Regions from separate parts of the Homo sapiens genome. Here all the other regions are linked to region 2. The links come from fine-mapping of genetic effects on gene expression. A gene starts in region 2. Each other region holds a variant in brackets. All regions are shown on one strand. Distances are from middle to middle. Region 1 overlaps ENPEP (glutamyl aminopeptidase). Region 2 holds the start of ENPEP (glutamyl aminopeptidase). Region 3 has its middle 62 kb from the start of ENPEP.

The links. PIP is the estimated chance that this variant, and not a neighbour inherited with it, causes the effect.
Region 1: its variant is the best candidate, but not a certain one, in a credible set for the expression of ENPEP in lung (GTEx, PIP 0.88).
Region 3: its variant is the best candidate, but not a certain one, in a credible set for the expression of ENPEP in lung (TOPMed, PIP 0.62).

Annotation. Positions count from the first base shown.
Region 1 is chr4:110,501,698-110,504,364 of GRCh38, reverse strand. The region is part of intron 3 of ENPEP (glutamyl aminopeptidase); the gene reads right to left. Among named protein-coding and RNA genes, the nearest start is that of ENPEP, 27 kb to the right of the region's middle. The variant A/G (reference allele first, on the strand shown) is at 1,323.
Region 2 is chr4:110,474,487-110,477,153 of GRCh38, reverse strand. It overlaps ENPEP (glutamyl aminopeptidase), which reads right to left and starts at 999. Exons shown (of 20, transcript NM_001977.4): 1 at 96-999. The coding sequence starts at 739.
Region 3 is chr4:110,413,239-110,415,905 of GRCh38, reverse strand. No RefSeq gene overlaps it. Among named protein-coding and RNA genes, the nearest start is that of ENPEP, 62 kb to the left of the region's middle. The variant G/A (reference allele first, on the strand shown) is at 1,340.

The DNA of each region.
Region 1 (2,667 bases), 27 kb before region 2:
ATCAAAGACCCTGAGTGCTTTAATCATATCTCCAGTAAGCTGCAGCCACCCTAAGGAAAAGAAGCCAGTTTGTCCCAGCCACAACCCCCTGTTACCCCTGCTCATCACCAGGCAGGCCCTTGGCTTGGGCCCACAATACAACCACCTGACCCCGGGCTGATTGCACCAATTGGTAGTGGCTCTGCATTTCTCTGGGGTGGAGTTCCAAAAGACCGGTGAAAAGCCCTCTGCTACAGCAACTGCCAAGGTCCCTTCCCCTGCTGCCTCCAGGCTGCAGAAGGAGCATAAAGCCTGAGCTTGCTCCAAGGCTGTGGTGAGCAGCCCAGGAGTGCCAAGCTGAGATCTGCAGCCAGTACTTGAGTTGGAGAGGAGCAGGCAGTTTCAGAGCACTGAGAGAGAGCACAGCTGCAATTAGGAGGAAACACAGAGGAGCCTTGTGGCTGAGCAAGAGCCTAACTACTGGCCATTATGCTTAAGCACCATCTACTGGATCATAGCCCAAACTTCAGCACCAAAAATACTTTGCTAACATAACGCCCCTGAGAAACAAAGGACATGAATTCAGCGCAAATAATGACCCAGCACAAACACTTCGTCCTCTGAAAACATCCAGGAAAGAAATCAACTGACTGTACTCAAATTACAGCACAGTTGAGGGAACATCAGCCACCACAGTTGAGGGAAAGTCAGCCCACACAGATGAGAAAGAACTAGTGCAGGATCTCTGGCAGCTCAAAAAGCCAGACTGCCTTGGTTCCTCCAAAGAACCACACTAGTTCCACAGCAAGGGTTCTTAACCAGACTGAAACGACTGAAATGATAGCAATAGAATTCAGAATATGGATAGGAAGGAAGATCATTGAGATTCCATTGAGAACCATTGAGAAAGTTGAAACCAATCCAAGGAAACTAAGGATTACAATATAACAGTACAGGAACTGAAAGACAAAATAACCGTTATAAGAAAGAACCAAAATGACCTGACAGAGCTAAAAAAAACACACTACAGGAATTTCATAATGAAATCACAATTATTAACAGCAGAATAGGCCAAGCTGAAGAAAGAATCTCAGAGCTCAAAAACTGGCTCCCCAAACTAACTCAGTCCGACAAAAATAAAGAAAACATCCAGTTCATGTCCTTTGTAGGGACATGGATGAAGCTGGAAACCATCATTCTCAGCAAACTGTCACAAGGACAAAAAACCAAACACTGCATATTCTCACTCATAGGTGGGAATTGAACAATGAGAACACTTGGACACAGGAAGGAGAACATCACACACCAGGGCCTGTCGTGGGGTGGGGGGAGCGGGGAGGGAT[A/G]GCATTAGGAGATATACCTAATGTAAATGACGAGTTAATGGGTGCAGCACACCAACATGGCACATGTATACATATGTAACAAACCTGCACGTTGTGTACATGCACCCTAGAACTTAAAGTATAATAATTAAAAAAAAAGAAAACATCGAATAAGAAGAATCAATATTGTTAAAATGGCCATACTGCCCAAAGCAATTCACAGATTCAGTGGTGTTCCTATCAAACAACCAGTGATAGTTTTGACAGAATTAGAAAAAAACTATTTTAAAATTTATATGGCACCAAAAATATAATTGCCAAGGTAATTTTAAGCAAAAAGAAAAAGCTGGAGGAATCACATTACCTGACTTTAAACTATACTACAAGCCTATAGTAACCAAAACAGCATGGTACTAAGACAAAAATAGACACACAGACCAATGACACAGAATAGAGAGCCCAGAAATAATGCCATACACCTGCAACCATCTGATCTTCAACAAAGTTGACAGAAAGAAGCAATAGGGATAAGACTCTCTATTCAATAAATGATGCTGGGATAACTGACTAGCCGTATGCAGAAGATTGAAACTGGACCCCTTCCTTACACCATATACAAAAGTCAACTCAAGACAGGTTAAAAAGTGTAAAACCTAAAACTATAAAAACCCTGGAAGATAACCTAGGAAATACCATTCCAGACATAGGACCTGGCAAAGATTTCATGACAAAGATGCCAAAAGAAACTGCAACAAAACCATAAGTAGGCAAATGGACTTAAACTAAAGAGCTTCTGCACAGCAAAAGGAACTATCAATAGAGTAAACAGACAACATACAGAATGAGAGAAAATATTTGCAAACTATGCATCCAACTAAGGTAAAATATCCAGAATCTGTAAAGAACTTAAATCAGCAAGCAAAAACAAACAACCCTATTAAACAATGGGCAAAGGATGTGAACAGACACTTTTCAAAAGACACTTTTCACATATGGCCCACAAGCATATGAAAAAATGCTCAACATGACTAATCATTAGAGAACTGCAAATCAAAACCACAATGAGATACTATCTCACCCAGTCAGAATGGCTATTATTAAAAGGTCAAAAAATAACATGCTGGCAAACTTGTAGAGAAAAAGGAACACTTATACACTGTTGGTGGGAATGCAAATTAGTTTATCCATTGTGGAAAGCAGTTTGGCAATTTCTCAAAGAACTAAAGCAGAATTACCAAATGATCCAGCCATCTTATTACAGGATATATATACCCAAGGAAATATAAACTGTTCTGCCGTAAAGACACAGGCCTCCATACGTTCATCACAGCACTATTCACAGTAGCAAAGACGTGGATGGAATCAA
Region 2 (2,667 bases):
CAAAATAATTAAAAGCGGAAAGTGAAAAGGAAAGGAAAAGAAATGGAAAGCAGATATGTGAGCTTAAGGGAGGTAAAGCAAAAATTAATATTTACTTGACTTGTCCGTTCTCCGTGTAGGTGGTTCTATAAAATCCCACGAGGGAGCCGTTCAGCCAGCCGGCGAACTCCATGGTCAGGAGATACAGGCCATCTCCACTGCTGGGGGTAAGCTCTTCCTCCGCCTCGACCACCACGTACTCCTGCTTTTTGTACTCGAAACACCTCCGGACTTGCACCTGGTCCCCAGAGGGCCTCTTCAGCTCCGGGAGCCGGGTGATCCTGGTCTCCCGGAGGTGCAGCCACAGGTACCGGGTGGGAGCGCTCAGGTTGATGGAGATGCTCACGGTGCCCGTGTAGGTGTCCTCCTCCAACAGGGGCTTCACGTGCAGGTCGTAGTGGACTGGGTTGACGAAGTCCGGCAGTCGAAAGTTTTTCCACTGTCCGCTCTCATCCTCACTGGCCGGGCAGATGTCCTGGTCCTGGGCAGGAGGACCTGAGGGGCTGGCCGTGGAAGAAGGCAGGTGGGAAGGAGCTGGCGCAGTGCCCGGCCCGCCGTCCCCGCTGGAGTCACACGATCTGGTCAAGCCCACGGCAAGTCCCACTATTAATCCTACACCCACCACCACCGCACAGAGAATGGCCACATGTTTCGTTTGAATGCAGTATCTCTTAGAGCCCTCTCTCTCCGCAAAGTTCATTTTTGCTTCCAAAGTCAAGTGTTACACATAAAAAGATGTTAAATTTAACTAACTAACGTCAGCAGACTTCCTTTTTAAATTGGAAGGAATCCCCTGATTTGGCAGCCTGTTTTCGCTTTTCCCACACCCCTCTCTCTGGCTTCTTGCGCCTTTTCCTCTCCCTTTTCACGTTCCCACCAGCCACTCAGGATGAATGCGGAAACAAGGGGGGTGGAATGAGGACTCCGTAAGAGGAGCCGAGTGGGAGGAAGAGGGCTGGCAAGAAGATTGTCACAGCTCCCCTTATAAACGACGCATCTCCACCCCTACCCCTCCTGCACTGCAGCGAGTTAAATATAAAACAGGGCTTCGCTTATCAGCCAACGGGAGGATGAGCCCTCGCCAAAGCTCCGTCAGCAGCTTTCAGGGAGCAAGCGTTTGGGTGAGGTGTGCTTACGATAGAAAATCTCAACCTTTGCCACTCAGCCTGGGGCTTCTTCCTGTTGTGTTCGCAATCTCTCCCTCCTAACTAAAGGGCTTCTTGAATTTCAGCTATTTTATCAGATAGCTTGCTAAAGAAGCTAAGTGTTTTCTTTTATTTTTTTTCCCTCATATTATGTAAACATTCCAATTCTGTCCTTTGAAGAAGTCATATCCTGGAATTGGGTGCTCAGGGTGATTCAAGGACCACCTAGGTACTCAGTAAATATTTGTCGAATTAGATTTGGAAAGCATAGCCAGGTAAACCTAAATCAGTTCAGCTGGTGCTGGGTGAATGAGAGAGGGGGAACCCAAAGAAATTAGCCAAAGCAGTAGTGGAGCTGGAAAGCTTAAGAAGAGAGAGGGAACAAGAGGGGGAGAAGTCTGAAAGGACAGAGGGACAAGGAAGAAGGCCTACTTGTCTCTGCAGTGTGCCTCCAAGTGAGATTGACTTCCTTAGACTTTGATGTGGTAGAGCACGTTTAAAGTAGATTCCAGATGTGAAAATTGACCTGTTGGGAAATCCATCATCCATGCAAATCTATCATTTTGTTTCTGAATGACAAGCTCAGGAAGAAAAATCTCAATGAACTTCATATTTACTGGCAGCTTAGCTATGGACTGACATTTAGAGAGGTTAAGCTATTGCTCAAGGTCACACACCTGGCAAATAGCAGAACTGGGGTTTGAACCCACGTTGTCTGAGTCTAAAGTCCATATATCTGGCCAGGTGTGGTGGCTCACGCCTGTAATCTCAACACTTTGGGAGGCTGAGGCAGGTGGATCACCTGCGGTCGGGAGTTTGAGACCAGCCTGGCCAACGTGGTGAAACCCTGTCTCTCCTAAAGATACAAAAATTAGCCAGGCGTGGTGGAACACATCTGTAATCCCAGCTACTCAGGAGGCTGAGGCAGGAGAATTGCTTGAAGCTGGGAGGCGGAGGTTGCAGTGAGCAGAGACCGTGCCATTGTACTCCAGCCTGTGTGACAGAGCAAGACTCCATCTCAAAATAAATAAATAAATAAATAAAATTAAAAAAATTAAAGTCCATATATCAACGATCGCATTCTACTGCTTGCTTCCATGCTCTGAGGAGGATAAATATTCAAGGGTTAAGTAACTATGAAAAACTTGGTATTTCCCCAGATACAATCCATGGATATTAACAGATCTACTTGCCAAGCAAACAATGCTGGGTTAAAGTGAAAAATCTTCTTTTACTACTCTCCATTCTTGCAGAGCCTCCAGATGGTGACACACATTGTGAGCCTCTCAGAGAGGAAACACGACGGAGTACTTTCCCCATTTAGTTGACAAGACAGCTTTTTCTGGTGAGGTACCTTTTGAGGGCCCTCTGTTCCACAGAGCACACTCTGAGAAACGTTGTTTCAAACGGTTCTAAATTACAAACTAAACAAACAAACAAAAAACAAAACTTTAAAAGCAAACGGGTCCATTTTACTCTGTAA
Region 3 (2,667 bases), 61 kb after region 2:
CATAACATGAGTCTTTGGAAATCAATCCCGGATGTCTCAATTTTCTCTGAGTTGAGAAAGAAGGGCCGGAATTTCCAGGTCTGTGGGGACCCCACGCCCCTGATATAGCAGCACCAGAGAACTTGAGACCCTTCTTTTATGAGTCCTTTATTGCTTACTCAGTTATGCCTCATTAGTTACTAAATCTGATGAACAAGGAAGCCAATATTTAAGGCACTGGAGGATATATCACTGGCTGGTGACAAGGTTGTTACGTAACATCAAGGTTCTTGATGTTCACACTTAGTATTCTTTTCCCTGGCTAGATGTGGTGGCTCATGCCTGTAATCCCAACACTTTGGGAGGTGAAGGCAGGGGGATCACTTGAGTTCAGGAGTTTGAGACCAACCTGGGCAACATAGCAAGACACCATCTCTACAAAAAATTTAAAATTAGCCAGACATGGTAGTGCCCATCTGTAGTTCCAGCTACTTGGGAGGCTGAGATGGGAGGATCACTTGAACCCTGATATTCAGGGCTACAGTGAGTTATGATCACACCACTGCACTCCAGCCTGGGCTACAGAGGCTCTGTCTAAATAAATAAATAAGAAAAATAAAACGGTATTCTTTCAATTGAGTCAGCTTGCAATCCTGGCAAGAGAATTTACTGCATTTTATCATGGGGCTCTCTGGCGTAATGGTGAGCACTCGGGACTCTGAATCCAGAGAATTTACTGCATTCATGCACTATTTTCTAATCCAAAAAATTTAGTAAGCAATATTTTCCTCAATATTAACATAATTTTAGGATGCTGAAAGAGTTCATTCAACTGACCAAAACATTAAGCATTAAACTAAAAAGCAAATTTACAAAGAAAAGATAGATTTTATTTTTAAAAATTATTCCTAAAAATGTTCAATTTGGATCTAAGGAGACTTTGAGAATGTAGTGGTGATAAGGATTCTGATTCTGGCTAACATTCCTTGATGATGGATTTCATCTCATCTTCACAGCATCCCCATGAGGTATGTATGTATTATTAGTCCTGTTTATTGATAGATAAATGGAGGTTTATGAACATTAAGTAACTTGGACAAGGTCATGTAGTTAGAGCCAGAGCTATAACCTAGGTCACCTGGCCTGATTCCAAACCTTGTGTTCTCAATTGAGAGGAAATGTGTGGGCCAAACTATTCCAGATTTCTCAGAAAGTCTGCAGTTCACAGCATAGTTTCTTAATTTTTTTTAATGCCAGCACATCTTTTCAACAGACTCTAAAACTAAATTGCAGTGCTGATGTTTTCCAGGAATTAGACAAATCATGAACAAAGTGAGTGTTTCTCTGCAGAGCATTCTGC[G/A]AAACACAGGTAAGAGCAGACCTCTCCATGGCAAAGCTTCTCTTTGCCCAAGTAGTTGTAGAGACTGTCTTGTTTGTTATTCCTAGTAGAGAGACCACTTTCCTGCTGAGAGTGATTCGTTCAGAAAATATGTTTGAGAAGGGGTCATGCATGTGAGGAGAACAGCTGTGAACACTCATACAGCTCTTTGTTCCCTCATATTTTCTATATTCAGTTCATAATCCACTTGAGCAGTGGTGCCAGCTGGCAGGTCCAGCAGCTCATTTTTCTTCTCATTTTCAGCAGATCATCTAGTTTCTTCCCTATGGGTTCCTACCCCCATTTCATAGCCACTCACCTATTGATAAACAGGCTCTGCCTAAAGCACATCTCATCTTCCAGTCCATCAGCGCAGGATATGCAATTTTCCCAAACTCCAAATTACTATTGTAGTCCTTGATACAACATACATATTTAAATGGGGACTGTGAACACACACAGAGGATGAAAGGCTGAAGTAATGAGTCCTCGTGCCTGGGTTCTAGTCCATCTGATAGTGGTTTACCCTCTTTGGCCTCTGTTCCCTCATTTATTTTGCAGATTAATTCAGGTTACTAATTCTTATGGGTTTTAAAGGATGCTGAACTCCTAACTCCCAGTCCCTGAGAACATGACCTTATTTAGAAAGATGGACCAGGCACGATGGCTCATGCCTATAATCCCAGCACTTTGGAAGGCCTAGGCGGGTGGATCACTTGAGGTCAGGAGTTCAAGACCAGCCTGACCAACATGGTAAAACCCCATCTCTACTAAAAATACAAAAATTAGCTGGGTGTGGTGGCATGCATCTGTAATCCCTGCTACTCGGGAGGCTGAGGCAGGAGAATCGTTTGAACCCTGGAACCTCTGCAGTGAGCCGTAATGGCACCATTGTGCCCCAGCTTGGGTGACAGAGCGAGACTCTGTCTCAAAAAAAAAAAAGAAAAAAGAAAGAAAGAAAAATAGGGGCTTTACAGATGTTCAAGTTAAAATGAGGTAGGTCATTAGGGTGGGCCCTAAACCATTATGACTTATGTCTAGATTTTTAAAAGGTGGAGAAATTTGTATACAGACAGATACTAGTAAGGGAGAAGGCCATCTACAAGCCAAGGAATTTGTATACAGACAGATACTAGTAATGTCTTCCCCTTACTAGTAGGGAGAAGGCCGTCTACAAGCCAACGAATGCATAAGGCTGGGAGAATCTAGGAGAGAGGCATGGAATGAATTCTCCCTCACAGTCCTCAGAAGTTTCCAACCCACCAGATGCCTCCATTTCAGACTTTCAGCCTCCAGAACTGTTGAGACAA